Regions from separate parts of the Homo sapiens genome. Here region 2 is linked to region 1. The links come from fine-mapping of genetic effects on plasma protein levels. A gene starts in region 1. The other region holds a variant in brackets. All regions are shown on one strand. Distances are from middle to middle.

Region 1 (9,508 bases):
AGAATGGATTCAACCAACCACAGATAAAAAATGGTTGGAAAAAAAAAGATGGCTGCATCTATAGTAGTGAACATGTAGACTTTTTTTCTTGTCATTCATTATTCACTAAATACAGTATAAAAATTCCTTACATAGCATTTACATTGTGTTAGGTATTATAAGTAATCTAGAGATGATTAAAGCATATGAAAGTATATGCATAGGTTATACATGCCATTTTATATAAAGGATTTGAGCTCCATGGATTTTGGTGTATGAGGGGGATCCTGGAACCAATCCTGCACAGATACCACTGGATGACTGTAAGGAGAATTCCACCCAGTGAATATCTGGTGAATAACTCAACAAATATTTTTTATATTTATTTGTTAAATAACCCAAGACTTTGATAGCAAGCCTAGTGTTCTTTCTACTCTGACAAAACAGTCTTCTCTGCCTCTTGTATTGAAGTAACTGTTCTATTTGCAGAAGTACATTTTAGAGCATTTTCATTACACAAGTAATACATATTTAGTAGGAAGTTATAAAATATAGGTGCACAAAAAGAAGAAAAAATTTCCATAACCCTAGGAAACCCACTGTAAACATTTTGGTGTGTATCATCCTAGTTTCTCTCTTCTAATATGTTCTATGCAAACACATAGTTTTTCTAAAAGTGTGACTTAATACATTATTTACACTTTTATTTTATGTCTATATGCGTGTGTGTATTTAATAGCCTTCCCCTTAAGGTATTTTAAGCCACAGAAAGACTGTCTTACTTAGATGCCTGCAGTATGCACAGGTATCAGCTGGCTTGAAGAAGAGCAACCACAGTCACTGAACCATTGGAGTTTAGCATTGGATCTTGATCTCTTATGCTCCAGGCTGGGGGTTGCTTACATAAGGAGCTTTGGTCCTGGCTCTCTGTTCCTCCCGATGGGAGGAGACAGAGAGCCAGGGCAAGCCCCAGGCTTCTCCACATTGCTGGGGTTGTCCTGTAAAAGAGAAAACCTGTCACTCTTCTTCATAGTTAACTTCACAGTCCTAACTATGAATTTCTATAAATCCTGCAGACATAATTCCACTTCCTAAAAATACCTAGCCCATGAATTCTGTCTCCAGAAAGTTATGTTCAGACTGTGGCTTATAAAAATAAGTCTGTGACTTATGTAACATTCTGCAAACACAACCTAACTTTTGTTTGAGACACACCAAGTTCTGACTGTTCTTTCTATCCTCCAAGAAGAAAGGGATAGGCCGGGTGTGGTGGCTCACGCCTGTAATCCCAGCACTTTGGGAGGCCGAGGCTGGCAGATCACGATGTCAGGAGATCGAGACCATCCTGGCTAACACGGTGAAACCCCTTCTCTACTAAAATTATACAAAAAAAAAAAAAAAATTAGCCAGGCTTGGTGGCAGACACCTGTAGTCCCAGCTACTCAGGAGGCTGAGGCAGGAGAATGGTGTGAACCCGGGCGGTGGAGCTTGCAGTGAGCTGAGATCGCGCCCCTGCACTCCAGCCTGGGCGACAGAACGAGACTCTGTCTCAAAAAAAAAAAAACAAAAGAAGAAGAAGAAAGGGATAAATAGAGCATTCTGCACAGAAATGAAAAGAGCCAGCAAAAAAAGAGAACCAAGGAAAAAAGATGATGGCAGAAAAGACAGTATACCAACATGAATGTGGCTCATGTCGGGCCCTTAGCTCTTCAAGTTCAAACATTCTATATTTATCTCTTGGGTATGGCTCCCTTTTGTTTCTCTTATTCCTTGAAGTCTGGCTGTATGTATCTAACCAAGTAGAAATATCACACATCTGCCCCCTCTACCATTTAAGACTCTTTGAAATCCACACTCAATTAGCCTATTTATTGGAAAGTTCCTATGACTAGAAAATTCCTATGACTAGACAGCACTTTCTTTGGTAAAAAGATGCTTCCTCTGAGCAACGAAATTAAAATGCTTTTAAATACCTGACTAGAAATATCCTCAAAACTAGGGCTAGCTCTCTAAACAGAAATGTTCAAAAACAGGTGAACTGTAGACAGGTGATAAAGAAAAAGGAACACATTCAGCAGAGAGGAGCAAAGAAAAATCCTCACAAGTAATTCAGGCTCATTTTGATGTAAGAATCTGTGGGGAGAGATCAGGACAAAATTTGAAAACTGGGAAATCAATATATTTTCAAGCACTGATTTGAAATTTTTAAAAGCAGATGCATTTCTTTGGAGGTGGGGAGCTAATGGTAAATTACTTAGAGTGAGCCCAGAATTAAGAGAAGAATAGAAAAGTTAAAATCAGATTGATCTGGGCTTTAATGCACTGGTAGATATAGATAGAATTTTTAACCCTGATTGTCTTTCACATTATTTAACACATCAAAACTCTTACCTATATATGATATCTTGATAAGAACTTAACTAGAGAGAGTGAGGTGAGAGAGGTAGAGAGAGAGGACAAATTAACTTACTTATTTAAGGCCACTCCAACTACTTATTTTAATATTTAAAATATTCTAATATTTTAAGAAGAAGAAGAAGATATATTTGGACTGTTTCTAGAAAATTCCTCTAGAATGGTATTTACAATGATAATACAATTATCCTTATTATAGCTAATGTTTATTTAACTTTTATACAAATATATTCAGGTGGCACTAAGCACTTTTATATATCATGTCAGTTAATCCTTAAAACAATTATGTGACCATTATCCCCTTTTGCAGTTGAGAAAAACCATGGCTAAGAGTTTAGGTAACTTGTCTATGATCACACAGAGAGAAAGTCAGTCACAAAAGAGACTGGATTAAAACTAGTTCTGTCAAATCCTAAGCTACATCTTAGCTACTGCAATATATTGAGAGTTTTTAGATAGATCACCTTGTAATAACTATAGCCGCCAACTATTTTTGTTTATGCACTAAGATGCCAAAGAAAACATAAAAATAATTCAAGCTGTTTTATTTCTTAATAGAAAGGCTAGGTTTTCTCTGTTTCCTAGACCACAAATTCAGTAGTTACAGAACCTTGGCAAAAAATCAGCACTTGGTTTTTTCACTTTGCCACAGAGCACATATTTATTTATCTATTTATTTATTTATTTATTTTTTGAGACGGAGTCTTGCTCTGTTACCCAGGCTGGAGTGCAATGGCGCAATCTCAGCTCACTGCAAACTTCGCCTCCCGGGTTCAAGCAATTCTCCTACCTCACCCTCCCAAGTAGCTGGGATTACAGGCTCTCGCCACCACGTCCTGCTAATTTTTTTATTTTTAGTAGAGACGGGGTTTCACCATGTTGGCCAGGCTGGTCTTACACTCCTCACCTCGTGATCCGCCTGCCTTGGCCTCCCAAAGTGCTGGGATTACAAGCGTGAGCCACCGCGTCCAGCCCAGAGCACATATTGCAAGTAGCTGAATGGTGAATACAAATGAAAAGACTGTTTCACTCATTTCCCTCATTTAGGTTTATGATGAAAAAATAACCCATTGGCAGAGAGTTGTAGCTTAAGAGTTCACACTTTCGGATTTCTTCTGTCATTATAATCAACAGGCTGCTCAATTTTGTTTTCTTAAAATTATTTCTTACACCGTAAACCTTTGATAATTATAGTTGTCAGACAGCTATATAAAAATAATGAAGATAAATAACAAAATTGGGTTTCCTGGAAGCTGATCCAATAAGAATTGAAAAGTAGTTGTAAATTTCACTATGTCACCACTTTTCAATTGCGAAACTTAAATTTCATGGCCACATTCAGACCTACATTTATTTAAAATTACTCATTAAAAAGCAGGATATGTACAAACTTTCTCTGTCCTCCACCTCTGAACTTTAGGCCAGCATCTGAAAGCCCCTAATTCACCTGAATGCTCTCATTCACCATTTAAAATACAAAAGTTTGCATTTAATCACAGACCACCTAATTGTTGACATGGGTTTTAGCTTCTTTAAGGGTGACCACTTCTGCACTGTGGACTGAACCTACTGTACCCCATTCCACCACTTTTTCTTCTGAAACTGCTCACAATATCCCTGGACATTTCTACAACACTAGAATGAGCATATTTCAGTGTCTGCTCTTCAAATCCAAATGGCTGGGTTTTTTCCCTGTTTGTTCTTACTCTGCCCTTCAGTGGAAAATATTTAAATTTGAACATATAATACTGCCTATGTAACATCACAACAGATTATAGAATAAAAGGTTTGGATTTCTCCAGCTTCCTCTGCTCTCAGCTGTGCAGAAGACAGGGCAGAAATCAAGAACTGACAAATGTGCGCACTGGGAACTTCACCTACCACACCTAAGTTCAGACTCTTCTTATTCTTTTTCTCTTTTATTATTTTTATTTCCTCTATCCACCAGTTTTCTGAATCTATTCTATGGAAAAAAACAATTTATCAGACTCAAAAAATATTTACCAAACTTTAAAAGAATAAAGTATCAGAAAACACGAAGTTCCTACTTACACAACCACTTCCAACGGGCCTGCTTCCTTTCTCTTTGCTTTACTCTGGCAGCTCCACAAAGCCACAGCAGCACACTCTGATATTTATAGTCCTGTTGTTTACCTCACCCCTCAGGTATAGTCCAAAGTTCAATGTTCATTCTTGCAGTGACCTTGCAAGCAGAGCAAACCCCTGAGCTGATTGTTATCAACTTAAAAGAAAGTAGCAAGTGCTGCCATGCATAATATGGGGAAAACATTTTGACAATTACTAATTTATTCCCTATCCTTTTCAGTCACCCTAGAATCTAGGATTTAATGGTACAGTCGGGGGCGGGAGGAAGGGCTAAGGGTAAACAAGGCCTCCAAGTTGCCTTCTTTCCCAAACTATAACAGGGAAAAACATTTGCTGAGCCAGCGAATTATGCTGCTGCTTTAAAAAAAAAAAAAAAAGAGAGAGAGAAGCTTTTTTTTCCTTTTGTTTTGCTTCTTGCAGTGATGAGGTGCTAGCTTAGCCCACACAGTGTGACCTTTGTTAGAAAAGTCACCTGCTGTTACAAGTTACTCTGGTCTCCTGTTGTTACAGACTTACACGTCGATTGTGTTCTATGTTTATAACTTGAATTCATATGGGATTTCACAGGACCACTGCTCTTTTCTTGTTAATTTAAGGAAATAGAAAAATAGACTTCCTATCTGAGGGAAATCAGACCTCATTTTTATTGTCACTGAAGTCGTACTTCCTGGAAGACCTATGCATCCCCAGAATTTTTTGAGGATCGAATATAAAATCTTTACAAATGTGAATACCATAAAAATAAAAATTAAAGGTAGTAGTTGGACATGGAAAGAGTGTGGAAATTTCAAGATGTACAAATGAAATAGCTAATTCCTACTATTTCAGAAGAGGGTATTTTCTTTCTGGTAACGCTTGTAAGTTGGCATGCTCACTGTAGGTGAGGTAAGGAGCAATGTCAAATGATGTCATTCCTAGATAGCAATGGTTTTCGAGTAGGCCTTGCTTTTTTCATCAATTAATTTTTTTCCAAATAATCCCCCACTGATTGCTGTATGCTGAATACTGTTGTACAAGGTGCAGGAACTACAAAGAGACTCAGATGTTATCCTTCCTTTCAAGAAACTTCCTATCAAATTAGGAGGTTACCATTTGAAATCCAAGTTCTCTTTACTTGCCCTGAGCAGTTGTTACTTGCCTTTTGGGGTCCCATATCTCTTTGAGAATCCAGTTAAAATGCACATATACATAATCATTTTTTTAAAGAGTGTCATTAAAAAAATCTTTGTACAAAGCAGATATTCCTCCCTGTAGTTCATTTCCTTGACCAATTTAAGTAGTCATATTGAGGAAAGAGAGAGACCCTCTCATATTGTTTTATACTCAGTACCTGTTTTAAGGAAAAAAAAAAACAAGGATGTGAAATCAAAGACAGGCAGCCCGGTGCCAGGCCCAAACCAGGCCTGGGCCTGCCTGGCCTAAACCCAGTAGTTAAAAATCAATTCATAACTTCGAAACCGATGTTATTCATAGATTCCAGACATTGTACAGAAGAACACTGTGAAACTCCCTGCCCTGTTCTGTTTCTCTCTGACCACCGGTGCACGCAGCCCTTGTCATGTACCCCTTGCTTGCTCCAATCAATCACAACCCTTACATGTGAAATCTTTAGTATTGTGAGCCTTTAAAAGGGACAGAAATTGTGCACTCGGGGAGCTCGGATTTTAAGGCAGTGGCTTGCCCACGCTCCCAGCTGAATAAAGCCCTTCTTTCTACAACTCAGTGTCTGAAAGGTTTTGTCTGCAGCTCGTCCTGCTACATTTCTTGGTTCCCTGACCAGGAAACGAGGTAACTGATAGACATAGACGGCAGAGCTAACCCGTTAGGCGGCTTAGGCCTGTCCTGTGGAGCGTCCCTGCAGGGGACTCCAGTCAGCCTGAGTGACGCGATCCAAAGAACGCTCCCGGGTAGGAAATTGCCCCGGTGGAATGCCTTGCCAGAGCAGCGCATAGCAGGCCCCTGCAGAGGATTAACACGGTGGCTGAACACCGGAAAGAACTGGCACTTGGAGTCGCGACATCTGAAACTTGGTAAGACTAGTCTTTGGAACTTGCCCCACTCCATCTGAGTGGAAGTGTGGCCTGATCACCCACGGCGTGCCTGTATTGGCACTTTTGTTCTGGTTTTGACTTGGCTTGACTTGGTAAGACTAGTCTTTGGAACTTGCCCCACTCCATCTGAGTGGAAGTGTGGCCTGATCACCCACAGCGTGCCTGCATTGGCACTTTTGTTCTGGTTTTGACTTGGCTTGACTTGGTAAGACTAGTCTTTGGAACTTGCCCCACTCCATCTGAGTGGAAGTGTGGCCTGATCACCCACAGCGTGCCTGCATTGGCACTTTTGTTCTGGTTTTGACTTGACTTGAATTGCTGGATACTTTGGTTTTGATTTTGACTTGGCTTGAATTTTTTGGTACTCGGATTTTGAATTTCGTGATTTTGGTTTGGTATAAACGGTAAAAGTGTGTGTGCAGCCTCTTTACCCGTTCTTTTTCTTGTGGTGAGTGTGTGTGGTGTGAGCGTGGTATTTTGTCTCGGAAAAAAAACATGGGTCAGGCACAAATAAGCCCACCCCACTAGGAACTATGTTAAAAGAAAATTTTCAAGAAAGAATTTAAGGGAGATTACGGTGTTACTGTGACACCAGGAAAACTTAGAACTTTGTGTGAAATAGACTGGCCAGCATTAGAGGTGGGTTGGCCATCAGAAGGAAGCCTGGACAGGTCCTTTGTTTCAAAGGTATGACACAAGGTAACCTGTAAGCCAAGGCACCCAGACCAGTTTCAGTACATAGACAATTACAGCTGCTTTTAGACCCCCTTCCCCGCTACAGTAGTTAAGAGAACAGCAGCATAAGCGGCTGGCAGAGGCAAGGAAAGACCAGCAGAGAGAAAAAGAGGCCATCTATACCAATTCTAAGTTAATTTAGACTAAACAAGGTCTTATTAATAGCAAAGGATAATTGAAATCCCAAACTTACAAGGTTTTCAACAAAAGTGAAGTTTGCTAAAAGTTAACAGTGTAACATGTATTATGGTAACTTCTAATCTTGTGGCCTTAGACTGTCTAGTCCAAAGACATAAAGAAAGTTCGCTTTAAAAAAAAAAAAAAGGAATGGTTATCTTAAAAAAAAAACAGGAAAAAAAAAAGGGGGGGAGGCAGAATTTATGTAAAAAGAGTGTTATAAGGTAAATTCTTCTCCTAAAATAAATTAACTGGTTGTTAAAAAAAAAACACTGTTTGTAATAAGTCAGAAAGTTGAGACATGTTAAAAAATTGTCTGCGAAAGTCGTAAAAGAAAATGTTATAAAAAAATTTTTATGCAAAAAATGTTGTATAATTTAAAAGTAATAAGGCCTCCTGAGTACTATTAAAGAAACTGTTTATGTACAAGGTGTATAAGAAAAGTAAAATATAACTTTGGTAAAAAAAATTATAAGGAGGCATAAGAATTAATTTTTACCTACATTAAAAGGTTAAAAAAATTATTGTTTTAACAGTTTAAGCAAGTTTTAAAATATTAATTTTAAAGAAAATTCTGTGGGTAAACATATTAGCTAAAGTTAAAAAGGTATCATCCAGTTTTTCTGTGAACTGGACATTAAAGTAAAAATGCAACAGGTTTTTCTTAAAGCATCAACTTGCTCTTTAACAAAAATTATAAAAGATTAAAAAGAGTCTATAAAATCTTACCTTATGGTCAAACATAAAAAATTGGATAAATATGTCTACAAGGTTTTATTAAAATTAAGTTTAACATTAATAACACACTAATAAAAAGGTAAAACTTAACTCATCTGGTATAGAAATCATACAAGAAGCATTATTAAATATAAAATGGTGTTTAGCTTTCTTTGATTTAAAAACTAATAAAAATTGGTGCTGAAGGAAACATTCATTTTACTAGAGGATCATAGAAGTTGAAGACTTAAAACAAACTTTGGCAATTAAGACAGCATACCAAGATGCAAATGCCTGGTTGGAATGGATCAAATATTCCATCTGCACATTAAACAAAAGCAATTGTTATGCTTGTGCACATGGCAGGCCAGAGGCCCTGATTGTCCCCCTTCCACTAAGGTGGTCCTTCAGTTGACCAGGTGTGGGCTGCATGTAGCTCTTTTCCAGGATTCTGCAGCCAGGAGTAATAAGTCATGCCAAGCTCTCTCTGCTATATCCCGAAGTCCCTGCCAGTCAGCCCCCGAGGGCCATCCAGCTTCCGTCTCCCAACACTAAGTTCACTTCTTGTCTCTCACAGCAGGGAGGAGACTTAGCATTCCTTGTAGACCTGAAGGGATGCAGTGAGCTTAAGAATTTTCAAGAGCTTATCAATCTGTCTTCCCTTGTTCATCCCTGAGCAGATGTGTGGTGGTATTGTGGTGGACCTTTACTGGGCACTCTGCCGAATAACTAGAGTGGCACTTGTCCTTTAGTCCATTTGGCTATCCCTTTCACCCTGGCATTTCATCAACCAGAGGAAAAAAAATAATAATAAGACATCATAAAGCAAGAGAAGCCCCTTATAGGTCTTTCAACTCTCACATCTATTTAGATGCAATTGGAGCCCCGCAAGGAATACCAGATTAATTTAAAGCTTGAAATCAAATAGTTACAGGATTTAAGTCAATATTTTAGTAGATGACAGTCAATAAAAATGTAGATTAGATGAACTACATCTATTACAACCAACAGCAATGAGCTTTTCATGAGTTAAAAAGAAAAACTCATGTCGGCCCCAGCCCTGAGGCTACCTGGCCTGACAAAACTCTGTACACTCTATGTGTCAGAAAGAAAAAAATTGGCAGTTGGAGTTTTAACCCAGACTGTAGGGCCCTGGCCAAGGCCAGTGGCCTATCTCTCAAAACAACTGAATGGGGTTTCCAAAGGCTGGCCCCCATGTCCAAGGACCCTGGCAGCAACGGCCCTGTTAGCACAAGAAGCAGATAAGCTAACTCTTAGGCAAAACCTAAACATAAAGTCCCCCCAATGTTGTGGTGATTTTAATAAAT
Region 2 (9,508 bases), 14 kb after region 1:
AGCAGAAAAAACAAAGTATAAAGCTTGATCCCCTCTAGGATGACTGTAAGCACAAGATTCTGTTGGAAACTTGGAAATGAAGACAGGAGCATTGAACCCAGCCTGGAGATAGGATCAGTATCAGGTTGGTGCACTTTCCAGCAAGTTCAACAGGCATTATCTTGGATTTTACATTCCACCTACAGAATACTCAGCAAACCTGACCACAGCACTGCCTAGACCAGGGGTGTCCAATCTTTTGGCTTCCCTAGGCCAGATTGAAATAATTGTCTTGAGCCACACATAAAATACGCTAACACTAACAATAGCTGATGAGCTAAAAAAAATTTTAAAACACTATGTATAAAGACGGTCATTCTCTATTTATTATTCCACAATGCTTTTAATTTAAGCATCATGGAAATCTTTCCCCGTCATAGACATTCTTCTGTGTCAGTGTGTATAGAGTTACCTCATTCTTTTTAAAATGCACATTATTTTATTCTATGAATGGTCTGTAATGTGTATACTCATTTTCCCTTTCTAACTGAAGCAAAGATTTTGTAAATAAGACATTCATTTTTATTTTACAGTTTTCCATGTTTATGTAACTGAAAAATATAAATATTTAAATAAAGCAATCAAATTTAGAATATATACTTTCGCTGATCCGAGAATTAATGAAAAAATGGCAAAATATTTATTCTCTTTGAAAAATGACTCAATTGTCATTTAAGAGTTATAACTATTAAAACAAGCCATGACCTTAGTCCTGAATACATATTTGTGTAGGATTGTCTAATGTTGGGACTCAGAAAAACATACCCAAAATGAAGGCCGCAGAAGCAGCCTCAAAACAGAAATTTTTCTCTGACCTTCTCCTACCCTACTATCTCTCAATCCCATTCTCTCTCAAGGCTAGCCATAAAAACTAGAATCTGTCTTACTCAAGGTGGGTCATAGAAACTAGAACCCCTTTACCCAAAGCCAGCCATAAAATCTAAAAATTTTACTCTAACTTTCCCTCCACTATAACTGCACAAAAACTGGCCACTAAAAAATTAGATAACTAGACTTATCTTGTTTGATTATAGGTCATAAGACCCCCATTCCAGAGAGGGCCCTGTGCCATATCCAAAAAAAGGAATACATGCTCAGAGAGGCGAAGAAAAATCTAGACAGACAGACCTTTCTGAGTTTCCCCACTCAGTCTATTAACATTAGATCATATTTTTTGTCCAATCATGTTTCTACTTGCTGCCCATACTTTGTTAAACCTAAACATAAAAATGGACAATTTCCCCTGTATCTTTGGGTCTTAATTTTAAAGGCTCCCATGTACACATTAATAAATATGTATGCCTTTTCTCCTATTAATATGCATCTTATCAGTGATTTTCTGCAAATCTTCGGAAGGCAAAGGGGAAGTTTTCCCTTTTCCCCTATACTAATCTTTAAGGTACATATTCTAACTTTTACAAGAAGCATAAAATCATGTGTGCACGTATATTTCTGTGTATGTGCATGTGTATGTGTGCATGCATGTGCATTGGAAACCTAGGCCCTGGAGCATGACTCCAGAGTGAGAGTAAACAGAAGACAAGCACATGAACAAAGACTGGGAAGATATGCTCAGAATTAACAGTGGTTCCCCTTCAGAATAAACATGATTTTTAGTTCTTCTTTTTATTTTTATGTATTTTCTAGAAAGTCTAGAATAATAATAGCTATCATTTATTGGATGTTTACTATATTCCAGTCATATTCTGTCTTTTATAGGTAATAAATAACACATTTAATCATCACAATAGTCTTTACCCTGTGAGAAAATAGGTACGAAGATGTTAAGTAACTTGACCTATATTCACAGCTAAAAGATAGAGGAGCTGGGATTCAAACCCAATGGTTTCAGAGCTCCAGAGTTTAACTGCAACAATAAACATGAATTTATTTTTCATCATAAATGTGGATAAGTGTGTATGTACATACAAATATATATATATATATATACACACAGACACACATTTATATATGCATGTATATAAAGGCTAGACACATGCATGCTGAGGCTTGGTACATTTAAATAAATGCATAACACCTTAAGTTGAATTCCATTCTCGTGGTTGCTGGAGAATAGTCATTATAACTATTCTTCAAAAGACCTCATTTGCTAGTCTTTTTCAACTGGACAAAGAAGAAACTAGAGTGAGGAGGACAAAGGCTTTGCACAACTTTTCCTACTACTTGACTAGCAGCAGACTCAGGGCTGCTGAGTCTGCAAGCAATAGGAAAGGCTTTGCAGATTCAGATTGCTTTTTGGAGATTACAATTCTGATCGATTTCAGATGGGCATACTGTACAATTATGAAATGCAGATTTGAAATCCTTTTAGTCAAACTTTATCCAGAAAGCAATTTTGAAATCTCTCTCCTCAACAATCTTCTAGCCTCTGTTTGAACACTACCAGGTCAGAAAGCCCACCACTCAGAGTGGGGCCATGTTCTCTTGCTGAGCCTCACATATTCTAAGTAATGGTCTCCTTACACTAATCTGACATCTCTTGGTGCAAGCTCTGTACTCAACAAAGACACTGAAAAATATATAATCCAAAGCTGATGTGGTTCATCACTTTGCACAGCTCCTTCCTTTTTAATTCTACCTATTTTTGTATGTTCCCACTCCACTTACCCTGTGAGATAACAAAGGTAAAGCTAATATTTAAAAGTAACATGTTTCCATGGAAAACAACTGTTTCTTTTGTGCTCTCATAGTCTGGGGTCATCTTATCCTCTTAAATGTTACAGCGTTTAACTATAAGAGTTAAAAACTAGTGCTAAGTAATGGGCCAATAATATTCCTAAAGTGCTGGGATGTACTGCCATAAAACAAACAAGAACCTAGGTATGTAATATTCCAGGATTCTAATTCCCCAACTCTAACTCCAAACCATCAGACCCTGGCCTCCAGCTCATATATCTTTGACTGCTGGACACATCTGACTGCAGAACATCCTGGACCAAACCTTGGCTACTGCTTCTTAGGATGTTCCAGCTTCAACTTTTGATTTACCACACCCTGGGTTCTGGCTCTGCTCATATTTGGCATCTCCTCATGCCTTCTTGACAATATTTGCATATATATTGTCATTATTTCAATTTCAGGACCGACGCAGTTCATGTTCCTGAAGGCTTACCCAGGCAGATGGTATAAATCCAGATCTCCTTCCCACCTGACTTCCCTCCACTCCTCAGCATGGCTCCTTTATTCCAGCCTCAGGGCCTCTCTCACACATGATCAGCATCTAGGGTTCCAATGTACATGCATGCACATGTACACACATACACATGTGCACACGTACACATGCACACACGTACACATGCACACACGCACTGCACCTTTGTTAACACTATCTTCCTGTCACAAATTGCCTTTCCTTCTACTCTCAGATTCAAATCCTAGCACAGAGTTAAAAGTTCAGGCTCTGGAAATCAGATTGCCTGTGTTTGTATCCGGCTTTTCTACATATTAACTAGATGACCTTGGGCAGGTTACTTAACTCTCAATGTCTAGGTTTCCTCAGGCAAAACGAGAATAATAGTAGTACTCATCTGTGGTGGCACTGCTAAATGTCTATTTGATGTCAATTTCCTTCCTTCTTCACCAATATCCAACTCCATAGCTTTTTAGGCAGCTATGTTGTCAGATGAAAGAAAAACAAAAAGCCTTCATTTCTCAACCAGTTATGCCACTGGGTGTCCATGTGATATCGTTCTAACCAACGAGATGGAGTGGAAATCTGAAGTCTGCTAGAAAATCTTAGGAAAGTTTTCCATTTATTTGCACTTGTTGCTTTTGTTGTCTTTCTACTGGGATGCCAGTGCGATGCCTTAAGTGGACCAGTCATTTTATAACCATGGGGCTAAAAAACACACACTGAGCATGATGCAGCTGAAGGTTAGAAGAAGCTAGAAACTTGATGGTTTCTCACGCATTTGTATCAGCCCCAGACTGCCTACTCCTGAACGTTATTATGTGACGAAGGATGAGTCTTTACTTCATTATGCCACTGTGATTATGATATGGACAAGAGGCAGGGAAATACTGGTTAAAAGAGAGCGGTTCCCTGGCAAAGGCCCCATCCTCAAGCCTGGAAACCTGCAGCCCTAAATAGGAACAGGCATTCCTGTTTTCGTGCCAAATGTTGCCTTTTCCAGGACCACCCTGGCCCACCACACCCCCATCCTGTACCCATAAAAACTCCAAACCTCAGGCTCCATGAGCAGAAGAGCAGCAGAGCAGTGTGGCAGAGGAGAGAGGAGAAAGAGTGTCTGAACATCGAGAGGAGTTCGGCTGGGGACTGTCAGAGAGATCAGCCATGGGATGGCCAAACCCCAGGGGAAGATTATCTTCTCACTCCATCCGCTTTCCAGCTCCCCATCCATCCTGCTGAAAGCCTCCTCCATCATTCAATAAAATCTCTGTATTCACCATCCTTCAAGTCTGTAGGACCTGATTCTTCCTGGATGCTAGACAAAGACCCGGGTACCAAGAGGACAGGGCGTAAAAGGCTGCCACCCTGACTCTCCACTGAGCTGGTTTAACACTTAGCCATCCGCGAACAGCAACTGCTAAAAGAGCATTAATTGTAACACACCCCTAGATGCTGCCATGGGGCTAGAGCCCAAAAGCGCTCACCCCGTCTCCTGCACCTGCCTGTCTGTGTGCTCCCCCTCCCTTAAGGGGTTTGAATGTGCAGTGGCCAAGCAAACAAGCCACACCCCTGTTGCAAGTCCCATAAGAGGGTCAGAGAACTCTCCCATTTCAGTCAGGTTTCTGTTACCTAACAGTGTGTATGTGACTGTGAGGGTTGAATAAGAAAACACACATCAATGACTAGCAGAATGCCTGAATAAGTGCTT[A/AT]TAAGAGTGTTAGCTAGAGACTGGGCATGGTGGCTCAGGCCCATAATCCCAGCACTTTGGTAGCCCAAGATGGGCAGATTGCTTGAGCTCAGGAGTTCAAGAACAGGCTGGGTCAATATGACAAACCCCCATCTCTAAAATGTGTATACACACACACACACACACACACACATACATATATACACACACACACACATATATATATAAAGGTTGTTAGCTGGCATTGTTATTTCAAACCTCAAAGCCCCTTTTGTGAGATCTCCCTCCTTAATATGGCACTTAAAATTTGCACTATTCATTGGGCACATATCTTAAGTCCAATTCTCTCCTACTGCTATGTGGTTTTTGTATTGCTGTTAAACTTGTATTTCCTAAGTTTTCCCATAATGCTTATCTGAATTCTATGCATATAGGTGCTACTCACTAAATAAAATATGTATTCAGGAACTTTGAAACTGCTTTGGAAACATTTGAAAGGTTGTATTCTCACATTTCTTGTTTTACTTTATGGCAAGAGTCTTTAAAACTAATAAATTCTCTAGCTGAATTAAACAGCTGATTGTTTTTAATGGAAATATCTAGGTAATGAACTTCTATTTCCTTTTCTTAGCTTTTGATTACTATAGAATTGATACATTATCAAATGGTAGATTTTGAAAAGCTATTAATTCAACATACATTTTAATAGAAGTATTAGCTATATATACAAACTTTATTATGCATCAAATAATACAATGCTTTAATAAGCTACTTTTACCCCAGGAACTGGACTATAAATAGACCTAAAGCTGCAAGAGAAAATAAACTGTCTGTAGTGACTTCTTCACTTGCATAACTTGTACTACATGGCCTCTGAAAAACAACAGGTCCCTCCCCCTTGTCCCACCCTGCGAAGATGCAGGAATAGGGTGGTCCAGGAAATCCTTCCCTCCCTGGATCCTTCAGAGCATTGTTTTAACATATTCCTCTACTATTTGTGTATTTTTAAAATTATACTTCCAGGCTATGAACTTCTAAGGGCCAAGAGTGTGTTTTACTCAGTTTTGTATACTCTACAGCTACCATCATAATACTTGCCACAAAAAAAGGTCCTCAGAAAACATTTATTATGTTTCACTAAACTAAGTTGAGCTGAAATTGGCCAGGAACAAGAACTGGAAATTTATTTGCATCATAGTCAAGGGAAAAAATGTTTCAAAGAGTTAGAGACCTGTTTTCTATCTCCATTTGATGGCTATGTGAAAAGCTCCTTTTTTAATAGATCTGCTCTCCCAAATGATATTTGCTTCCTCCTGTTTCCCAGAAGTCACATAAAAAGATGTATGGCAAAAATCCTCGGGAATCCCAGCAACAGAAGACATGTTGTTTGTAGTGTCTTGGTCACTGTCCTTAGGGTGTGTTTTTCTTAACTGAACAAGTAGTTCTGGAATATCTAAGTGCTGATATCGTTCTAAACACTTGAAAATACATCGCTATCCTTATAGAGCTTATAGTTCAATGCTAGAATGAATGTCAGTAAGTGTTAAATAGCAAAGAATAGAAAAATAGAGAAGTCACCCAGTTCATAGAATTTGGCAAAAGCTTCCCTGGGGAGGTAAAAATTAGCAGCAATTATAAAGAAGTGTAAAACTTAACCAGGTGGAATTGGAGGCAGATGAAAGAGCACGTGCAAGGACATGGTAGGAGGGAGGAGGACAGATTGAAGGAAATGAGCAAAGCCTATGTAGCTGGAGCCAAAGGTAAGCAATGAAATAGGAAACATGTACAGAGGCTACACCATGCCAGGCCATGTAGACTTTGTGGGAGTTTGTGTGTAACATGATCAGATTTGTATTTTAAAAGATTCCTTTGGTGCACAGTGAGGGATGCATTGAAAGGCAGCAAAGCAGCCATGTGTATCATGGGTAGTCCAGAAAACCTCAAAAGGCCAACTTCTGCCTTTTCAACCATCAGCTTTCTTCTTACAGATACCCAGTACAGATACTTTTTTTTAACTTTTAAGTTCAGGGGTACAAGAGCACGTTTGTTACACAGGTAAACTTGTGTCATGGGGGTTTGTTGTAGAGACTATTTCATCACCCATGTATTAAGCCTAGTCCATTAGTTATTTTTCCTGATCCTCTCCTTCCTTCCACCCTCCACCCTCCAATAAGCCTCAGTGTCTGTTGTTCCCCTCTATGTGTCCGTGTGTTCTCATCATTTAGCTCCCACTTATAAGTGGGAACATGAAGTATATGGTTTTCTGTTGCTGTGTTAGTTTGCTAAAAATAACAGCCTCCAGCTCCATCCATGTTCCTGCAAAGGACATGATCTCATTGTTTTTTATGGCAGTATAGTATTCCATGGTGTATATGCACCACATTTTCTTTATCCAGTCTATCATCGATGGGCATTTAGGCTGATTTTATGTCTTTATAAAAGAAGCCTAGTGGGGCCATTTTTGCACTGAGTCAGAATAGTTTGGGGTCGGACTCAATTTTAAAGTGTTGCTCTAAAGTTGTTGCCAGATTCAATATTTAGGAAGACTCAAAATTCATGTCTTACCATCTTGGTGACCACAATTGTATATTATGCTTGGTTTTGTGTCCTGAGAAAAGGAAGCCAATTTTTTTCCCTTAAAGTAATGCAATTTAGAGTCTCTACAAACAGTAAGAAGTGACTGATATGAGAAAAGAGTCAAGAGTCTTATGAGGATTATGTTTGTGTATGTTTAAGTTAAGGAATTTGTGAGTTGGCATGACAGCCTGCGGGAAAACAGCTTCATGATTGTCTTTCTGTCAGAAGCAATTTTCAGCAGGCTCCCATCTTCCTCGGCTTCCACTGTCAGTGCCAAGACACAGCCCCTCAGGCCTGGGGCCAGGTAACCATAAGACTTCAGTCAAATCTTCTTTGCATTTTCTCTGAGAAAAGCCTGCAGTTTCTTTTCTTGATCTTAGTCCAAGGGTAAGGTTTTCTGGAAAGTTTGAAAAGAAATTTATGCCTAGCGGTTGGAGGCCTATAGAAAGGGAAAGCAGTATGTTCCTATACGGCTATTTTTATTTTTTTGGCTGGAGAAAGCTACAGGAAGCAGCCTTGTAATCAATTGCTTTGGCATACCTGAGCCCTTGCAGGATGCACATTGGCTATTTCGTACTCACACAAAGAATATTACTTAGTACAATACTGACACCAGGAAAGCTGAATCTATATAAGATAGTAAAAGATGCTAAGCAACAAAACTGGCTATATTCCTTCATTTATTTATTCATTTATTTCTAAATAAATGAGCATTGATTAAGCAGCCACACTGTGCTAGGTAATGGGAATTACAGTGTCATTGATTTCACTAGGGTGGCACCAGGATAAATATCTTGTGAGCTCAGAGATCTAGATCACCGAAAATGAAGGCCACAGTGCAGACCTTAGTTCAAGCCATCAGGTTAGACTTGGCTTAGACTGAGTTCTCACAGTATTTTGGAGAAATAGGTCTTCCTGGGGTCCAGACAGTGTCCCCATCCTGGTAATGCCTAGGGCATGGGTATATCTGACCTCTACTGCTGAAATGGGCCCAATATTCTCATAGACAGTTGTTTTTGGGTAAACATAGAAATTGACCCTTCTTCTGTTTTTTTTTTAATTGTTGTTGGGTTTTGTTTGTTTGTTTGTTTTTGAGATGGAGTTTCACTCTTGTTGCCGATGCTGGAGTGCAATGGCGCAATCTCGGCTAACCGCAACCTCCGCCTCACGGGTTCAAGTGATTCTCCTGCCTCAGCCTCCTGAGTAGCTGGGATTACAGGCATGTGCCACCACATTTGGCTAATTTTGTATTTTTAGTAGAGACAGGGTTTCTCCATGTTGGTCAGGCTAGTCTCAAACTCCCGACCTCAGGTGATCCACCTGCCTTGGCCTCCCAAAGTGCTGGGATTACAGGCGTGAGCCACTGTGCCCAGCCCCTTCTGCTGTTAAAGCTTGAAACTTGTATTTGTTTTATCTGAGTTCCTTCCTCAGGAAAGGACCCTCAGGCCTCTCAAAAAAAAAAAAAGTAGTAGTTTCTGTTTTCTTACACATTGTTACATTTCTCTCTTGCTATATAAACCCCTAGTTTTAGTCAGTTAGGGAGATGAATTTGAGGCTGAGCTTTCATCTCCTCAGCTACAGCACTCAGTTAAAGCCTTCTTTCTAGGCAATAATCGTCATCTCAGTGGTTGGCTTTCTGTGTGGCAAGCAGCAGGACCTAGCCTGAACCCCTGGTTTTTCAGTAACAGTGCTACTTTCTGACTTGCTATCTGAGCTCCTGGAATCAGCTCTCAAGATGCAGGCTACATTTGTCCCAGAAGCCTTGCTGTGAGTTTACGTGCCTACAGAGTCCCATTAATGGACCTAGTGCCAGCTACCCAAGTACCAGAGGCTCTAAACCCCATTAAAAATGTACATGTGTTTGTGTCTGCCGACCTACTTCCCTCCCTACCTACCTAACTGCCTGTCTCCCTCATATCATATCGCTATGACAATAGGAAAAACTGAAGCTGTGGTGGTATTTGGAGAAGAGAATCTGGATGATAGCTTGGAGGGAGACCTTGCCCTGTGTGTCTTTGGTCTTTTTTGTATTCCTTAAGAGCACATCTCCTTCT

Direction of the effects. Alleles are on the strand shown, and positions count from the first base shown. The strength of an association depends on the size of the effect and on how common the allele is.
For the plasma level of the protein whose gene starts at base 4,503 in region 1, allele AT in region 2 goes with a lower level than allele A (weak association).

The links. A credible set is the group of variants that fine-mapping cannot tell apart. PIP is the chance, under the fine-mapping model, that this variant and not a neighbour inherited with it causes the effect. Protein levels are from antibody-based Olink assays in UK Biobank. Linkage for the fine-mapping came from a reference panel and not from the study's own genotypes, which makes the PIPs less certain.
Region 2: its variant is the best candidate, but not a certain one, in a credible set for the plasma level of the SELENOP protein (UK Biobank, PIP 0.51).

The regions. Positions count from the first base shown.
Region 1 is chr5:42,807,390-42,816,897 of GRCh38, forward strand. SELENOP (selenoprotein P) reads right to left here and starts at 4,503. Exons shown (of 5, transcript NM_005410.4): 1 at 4,447-4,503; 2 at 762-977. The coding sequence starts at 964. RefSeq lists an enhancer at 4,662-5,227.
Region 2 is chr5:42,821,197-42,830,704 of GRCh38, forward strand. No RefSeq gene overlaps it. Among named protein-coding and RNA genes, the nearest start is that of SELENOP, 14 kb to the left of the region's middle. The variant A/AT (reference allele first, on the strand shown) is at 4,899.